Homo sapiens: one gene and its partner. The protein of the gene in region 1 purifies or fractionates together with the protein of each later gene. This does not show direct contact. Each region holds a gene or a part of one and is shown on either strand. Other genes may lie near its edges.

Evidence for each region.
Region 2: the proteins of RTEL1 (region 1) and ANKLE2 purify together in Homo sapiens (affinity purification with mass spectrometry, with the first as the bait; one large-scale study listed by BioGRID). This does not show direct contact.

Annotation. Positions count from the first base shown.
Region 1 is NC_000020.11:63,664,608-63,668,330, reverse strand, and holds part of RTEL1 (regulator of telomere elongation helicase 1), read right to left. Parts: intron 2,328-3,723; coding exon 2,252-2,327; intron 863-2,251; coding exon 778-862; intron 1-777. UniProt on the Homo sapiens protein: A probable ATP-dependent DNA helicase implicated in telomere-length regulation, DNA repair and the maintenance of genomic stability. Acts as an anti-recombinase to counteract toxic recombination and limit crossover during meiosis.
Region 2 is NC_000012.12:132,744,645-132,748,367, forward strand, and holds part of ANKLE2 (ankyrin repeat and LEM domain-containing protein 2), read right to left. Parts: intron 3,688-3,723; coding exon 3,494-3,687; intron 3,377-3,493; coding exon 3,188-3,376; intron 1-3,187. UniProt on the Homo sapiens protein: Involved in mitotic nuclear envelope reassembly by promoting dephosphorylation of BAF/BANF1 during mitotic exit.

The sequences.
Region 1 (3,723 bases):
CCCGAGAATGAGCGAACCAACGACGGGATCTGGAAACGTCACCACGCCATCGTCACGTGAACACACAAACCATTGACCCGTGGCGTGTGATCCCACCTGCACTAAGTAAAAAGTGTGGGGCACAAAAGCAGGGCACATGGGGAGGAGGGCAGCAGGGCCGGGCACACACTGGGAGGAGGGGAGTTGAGTGTGGGGCCGGGCACATGCTGGCGGGGGGAGTGAGCGTGGGGCTGGGCACACGGGGCGGAAGGGAGTGGGGCTGGGCACACACTGGGAGGAGGGGAGTGAGTGTCAGGCCGGGCACATGCTGTGGGGGGAGTGAGTGTGGGGCCGGGCATGCACTGGGAAGAGGGGAGTGAGTGTGAAGCCGGGCACATGCTGGGAGGGGGAGTGAGTGTGGGGCCGGGCACGCGCTGGGAAGAGGGGAGTCAGTGGGCTTCCTGTGTTCTCGGTGCCTCCCATGGCCTGACGTGAAGGAGAGAACCTGAGCTGTCAGGATCAAGAGCGGGCACTGGCCTATGGACCACAGCCTGGAGGTCTCTCCTCACTCCCACCAGCCTGCCCGCTCCCAGACTGCTCAGAAAACTGACCTGTGGCCTGGGGCTGCTCACAAGTGTGTCTGGCCAGGTTGAGCCCCTGCCCAGTGACAGAGGTGAGTCCTCCCACCCAGGCCTGCTGATCTAAGGCCCTGAAGCAGCAAAGGCTCGGACAGCTGTTCCCAAGCCCAGGGACACCCCTGGACATCAGGAGTCGTCAGCTACAGGACTGAGCCCCCACCTTGGCATCCAACAAGTAATTGTACGGCATGAATATGATGTCGGCTTGCTGCTTCAGGTTCCGGGACAGGTAGTAAGGGCACACCCTGGGAAGGAGAGAGGAGAAGATCCTGTGAGCACCCCATGCAGGGGACGGTGCCCCGAGGCCGCCATGTCTTCTGACCCGGAAGGAGCCCTCATCCTGCACGTAGGGCCCAGGTGGGAAGCTGCTGCCTGGGATGGATGGGAGTCCACGTGAGTTTCTGACCAAGGGATGGGGAGTCCATGTGAGTTTCCGACCAAGGGATGGGGAGTCCTCGTGAGTTTCCGACCATGTAAATCGTCGTCTCTTTAAAAACTCGATGGAAAAGTAAAACCAACCCTATTCCTGGATAGAAACAAACACAACGCAGAACCACTAAGAAAAAGCAGAGCTGGGCCGGGCGCGGTGGCTCACTCCTGTAATCCCAGCACTTTGGGAGGCCGAGGTGGGCGGATCACAAGGTCAGAAGATCGAGACCATCCTGGCTAACACGGTGAAACCCCGTCTCTACTAAAAATACAGAAAATTAGCCAGACGTGGTGGCGGGCACCTGTAGTCCCAGCTACTCGGGAGGCTGAGGCAGGAGAATGGCGTGAACTCGGGAGGCGGAGCTTGCAGTGAGCCGAGATCGCACCACTGCACTCCAGCCTGGGCGACAGAGCGAGACTCCGTCTCAAAAAAAAAAAAAAAAAAAAAAAGAGCTGGCCAGGCATGGGGTCTCACGCCTGTAATCCCAGCACTTTGGGAGGCCAAGGCAGGTGGAACTCTCGAGCTCAGGAGACTGGCCTGAGCAACAGAGTGAGACCCTGTCTGTACAAAAAATACAAAAATTAACCAGGCATGGTGGTGTGTGCCTGCAGTCCCGGCTACTTGGGAGGCTGAGGTGGGAAAATCGCTTGAGCCTGGGAGGCTGAGGCTGCAGTGAGCCAAGACTGTGACACTGCACTGCAGCCTGGGTAGCAGAGCGAGACCCTGTTTCAAAAAAAAGGGGGAGGGAGGTTTCCCCCTCAATATAAGAAGAGCTTTATTATAACTTGAATCTCTGAAGCTGTAAGAGGTAGACATAGGAGACATCTGCTGTCCTCAAAAGAACAAGGCCGAGCTGCCAGCACCAGCATGGGAAGCTATACCCACAACGCTGAGTGAAAACAGCCAACTGCAGGACAGTCTGTGCAGACAAAACTGCGCGTGCTTCCGCACAGACACAGGCCTGCAGGGCTCCGTCCACACTCCACGGTGGCCACCGGGGATGGCTGAGGGCCAGGGAAGAGGGAGACAATTTTTTACTCTATCTTCCTCAGAGCTGCTTAAACTTTTTCGTACTGAATGGTGGTTAGTTTCATAATTTAAAAAGGAACAAAGAAAAGTGAAGAAATATATCCGGGCCTCCACAGGTCACAGGAGAGCTGGGCCATGGAAGGACAGTGGTCGTGGCCTCACTGAGGGGTCTCACCTGTGCTTGCTTCCGCTCTTGACCAAGTCCTCAATGTCCAGGATGGGGCTGGCCAGCTCCTGCTCCAGGCTTTTTTCTGCAGGTGTGAGGCAGGGGTAAACACACACCCTCAGGGTCCACTAAGTCCCAGACCACAGGGGGATGCCCAGGACAGAACGGCTCCTACACGGCGGGCAGGGCTGGGCGTCCCCCACCAACCGTGAACGCGCCACAAAGCACCCACTGAGGGTCTCAGGTGCCCAAGAGAGGCCCCCACCCGAGTGATCCTGAGGGAATCCTCCTCTGCCCCCAGAAGGCCTGAGGTTCAGGGTGGACCAGACGGAGGCCAGCAGGATCCCGAGGGTTCTACGCATCCTCTCCGAGACAGCCCAAGACAGGACAGGAGTGGCGGCTACACTCAGCCCTCCTCAGGGCAGGGAAGAACAGCCCCTCAGCCTATCGCCCCAACCCACAGAGGCATCTCCCACAAACCCCTGCAGGTGCCCCTGTGATTAGCACCGTCACTCAGCTTCCCTGCCAACCACAACAGGCCCAGAACTTCCAGCTAAGGGAGAGCCAGGTTTTCCTGGGCTAAACAGTGGCCCACTCCCCTCTGCAGCATGGCAGCCCTGGCAAAGGACACTGCCTGTACTGGCGGAGAGGCCCCGGGCAGAAAAGGCTTCAGAAGTCAGAGTCTGGGGGATGTCCTGCCCCTCCCTTGCCTCTACAGTACAGGCCCCCCAAACTGGAACCACAAGAATTCCTTAGGGAGTTGCTTAAACACAGACAGAACCAGATACCTCTTCTAACAAGCACCCCAGAGTCACAGGGCAGCCACGTGGGGCAATGGGGCCTCCCCCAGCTCCCGACTCCATCATGGCTGCTTTGTGCCTGTCCCCAGGAGGTGCCAGGCCCCCCGAGGGCCAGGACTCAGCTGCAGAGGCCAGAAGCGCACACATATGCACACGTGCACATACACACACACACACACTCACACACACCAGCGATGACCCAACCCCAGATACTCCCAGGGATAGCAGGGAAGGCAGGGGAGGAAAAGCACACCCCTGGGCAGCACCATAGCAACAGACCAGCCAATCAGCAGGCACTGCCGCACAGCGGCACTTGCCAAACCTTGCCTGGCGGAGAGCTGAGGGCGGGGCGAGGACAGGAGCTGCGAGGGGAAGGGGCACGAGGGGCGGGGCCGTCCCAGAGGCTCTGCCCCAGGCTGACCCCAAGCTTGCTGTCCCCAACCAGAGTCCTCACAGGACGCAGGCCAGGAAGGGTGCCAGCTCTCCAGCTGTCTCCTCATTCGCCCAAAATACCTGCCTCCCTTCCTCTCAGACCCCTCCAGGAGCTGCAGCCCACTCTGAAGATGCTCAGGCCGGTGCAGGTGCTGCAGACACCCCCTCACAGCCTGTCCGGTGGCAGACAGGGTGCGAAGGTTCACGGCTAGGCAACCTCCCGCCAGGTCGGGCAGTGAGAGCCCAAGC
Region 2 (3,723 bases), on another chromosome or scaffold:
TGGCAAGCTTTCTTGGACAAGGACCAGATAGTAAGCACTATAGACTTTTTTTTTGAGACAGAGTCTCACTCTGTCGCCCAGGCTGGAGTGCAGTGGCGTGATATGGGCTTACTGCAAGCTCCGCCTCCCGGGTTCACGCCATTCTCCTGCCTCAGCCTCCCCAGCAGCTGGGACTACAGGTGCCCGCCACCACGCCCAGCTAATTTTTTGTATTTTTAGTAGAGACGGGGTTTCACCGTGTTAGCCAGGATGGTCTCGATCTCCTGACCTCGTGATCCGCCTGCCTCGGCCTCCCAAAGTGCTGGGTTTACAGGCGTGAGCCACTGCACCCGGCCTCACAAATCTTTCTTAAACTACAATACTGGCTACCATTCCTATTAAAACAGCCAGCAGAGGCAGCTCCCGGGCAGCGTGCGTGCAGTGAGCAACCCTGCTGCTGCCTGCTCGGCTCCCACAGCCCATCACTCGGCTCCCACAGCGCCCGCACCGCGGCCCATGACTGCCTGAACACAGACGCCGCCAGCCAAGATGTCAACCCGAATTCTCCTCACAAAGGCCTGCCGTCCAACTCCATGACCAATGTCCCTGTTGACACAGGTGGGGCTGCCCAGGCTACTGCTGTTGAGGGTCTGACAGAGGCTGAGGAGGAAGAGCTCAGGGCCCAGCTACCAAGACGGATGAGGAAACTGTCACTCTACACCAGTGCTGGCAGCCAAGGAGGGGGACTGTGGAGAGCTTGAGAGGAGGCTGGGCCTCTCTGCCTTGGAGGCTGAAACGGAACCCTCTCTAACGCCTATGTGAAGACTTCTGAGAAATGTGGAAGTGGAATGAGAAAGTGGCCCACCCGGATCTCTGCAAGACTCAGGAAATGCTCCCACAGCAAGACAGAAGACCTCAACCAAGACAGAGACCTCAGCGGCCCTGTCCATGGTGGGCTCTGCCATCAGTAGGAAGCTCGGAGACGTAAGGAAATTTGCAACTTTCAAGTCGTTTGAAGACCAAGTTGGGCCCATGAAGTCTAAGGTCGTGGGTGACAGAGAACAGCAAGGACAATCTCCCTTCCTCAGCAGGGAGGGGCGACGAGCCCGTCGGATCCCGCACCTCTCTAAGCCTGTGGTCGCTTACGCTCAGCTGCAGAGCACACACACACACCCTCAGCATCACAGCCGGAGCTCTGAGCAACAAAGCGGCCAGCCAGGACGCACACGCAGAGCCGGCTTTGAGAATAGTCCTGCCCATCCACAAGGAGACGTGGCTACCGCATCCACATGAATTTCAACAGTTGTGTACATAGTTATATACTAAAGTTTGTAGGTGAAACAGATAACTGTGCTGTCCTTCCTAGGGGTACAGGAAGTGGACAGGGCGGAGGATTTGAAATACTGAGCCAAAGCCCAGGCTCCCTTTAAGAATCACGTTAGTGGCCAGGCACGGTGGCTCACGCCCGTAATCCCAGCACTCTGGGAGGCCAAGGCGGGCCGATCACGAGGTCAGGAGATGGAGACCATCCTGGCTAACACGGTGAAACCCCATCTCTACTAAAAATACAAAAAAATTAGCCAGGCATGGTGGCGGGTGCCTGTAGTCCCAGCTACTCGGGAGGCTGAGGCAGGAGAATCAGTTGAACCCAGGAGGAGGAGCTTGCAGTGAGCCGAGATTGTGCCACTGCACTCCCACCTGGGAGACAGAGCAAGACTCTGTCTCAAAAAAAAAAAAAAAAAAAGAATCAGGTTAGCCCATCAGAATGTTGAAGCATTGAAGAGTCCTACGCATAAGTGGCATTTTTGACCTCCTCCTTCCCTAACTCACAGAAGGAATGCAATCACCCAGAAAGCCCTACCTGTTCCATGAGTTTTTATCTTGAAATGCTAAACAAGAAGTGTCCATTTCCTGCCCACAGAAAGTAAACTGAATATCAACAACTGCCCAATTGTTGTACTAATCTAGCTTTAATGAAAAGCAAATTCATTATTTTTTTTTAATGCAGTGGACTTTTCAAAAATCGAAATTAGGCAAAGCAGCTTTAGCCTCCTAGTGAGAGAATATTATTTCTTTGGACTCAAGCTGAAATTCAAGCCTCACATTACCTCATGCTTTATTTATCATAAACATATAAATGAGGGTTGCTCAATGGCTGTGAGTACTGTGTGGGATTTTACACCTGGCCTGTGTGACTGCCTGTTCCAGTTGGGGTGTTGGTTTCACTAACACGCTCCATCCCAGTGTATAAAACTTGCTTCTCTTCTCAAGCAGGGCAGCTCCCCTGGCTCCCTACTCTGCCCTGAAGGACTTTTGGGCTCCCAGGGGTGGGAGGGGCTAAGAGAAGGAAAAGCCTGTCTTTAGCACCCTTTAGAAGAGCTGTGCCCGCTTCCCAGTGCTGCCTTGCATGGGCCTGGCCCGGGGGGCACTCATCAGTGACTCCAACCCGCCTGCTGGCTGCACTTCAGATGAAATGACCCCACAGGTCAGGTGGAGGGTGGGGCATGGGCATCGGCCAGGATTGCTGTCACCTTTTCTCCGGAGCTACCAAGATCGTTCCTGTTTCTAAGCAGTCGCACCCCAGCAGCCTCTCTCTCTCCACAGCCCTGCGTGTCAGGCAGCCTCTCTCTCACACCACAGCCCTGCGTGTCAGGCAGCATCTCTCTCTCTCCACAGCCCTGCGTGTCAGGCAGCCTCTCTCTCTCTCCACAGCCCTGCGTGTCAGGCAGCCTCTCTCTCTCTCCACAGCCCTGCGTGTCAGGCAGCCTCTCTCTCTCTCCACAGCCCTGCGTGTCAGGCAGCATGGTTTGCAGGGGCAGCTCTGTGCCTCAGTGGCTCTTGGTAGGACACTGAGGGCCTGCCTGTGGTGTGCACAGCTCTGCCACTCCCGGGAGGGGAAGTGCTGCTCAGCTCAAGGTGTCCTGTTCGGCAGAGGAAATGTCCTCTGACAACCGTGTCCCCAGACAGTTCAGACACCCTCGGGGACAGCATCGCACACACGACGACAATGCAGGGGCCAGGGAACCCCAGCGCTCGGTGCCCTTTGTCCAGTGGGATGTGGTAAGAAGGCAGGTTGCAGGGGTGTAATTGATGTATCTTTTCCCCAAAGTTATTATACTAATGAGTAACTTGTCGATAAAGCATTCTTTTGGGGAAAGACTTTTAACCAATTAAATAAAGAAAGCGTGAGTGGAGGGTGTGCACGCACCATCTTGTCGGGGGTGTTGAGGTACAGGTCCACCACGTAACGGATACGCTTCTGCAGCATGGCCTCGTCGTCATCAGGGTACATCAGCCTCATGAAGTCAGGGTTCTCCAGGACGTCCAGAGTCAGCTGGCAGATGGAAGCCTGGTTCTCTTTGGCAGCAACATGCATCACGTTGTACCTGCACCCTTCCTGAAAGAGAACCGCATGCTCTGAGCTTCCTATCTGATGTGTGGACACGCCCTGTGCGAGTGCTGCGATGGAACGGCCGGGACCGCACACCTGCCCGAGGGAACCGCCGAGACCTACCTGCACGATAGTGGGGTTGTCTCCTGAGCCTATCAGATACCGGGGGTTGCTCCAGATAAGGTCAGAAAAGGTGTCCTCCTCTCCCTTCTCCACAGCTTTCCGAAGCTTGGCGGTGAGGTCCTGCGTGCGGGGATTTTTGTAACTGTTCGCTCGCTCTTTGTTGACTGTTTCTGATTCCGACAAGCACAAACCATCTGTCAGTAAGAGACAGAATTTAAGAACAATCAGTT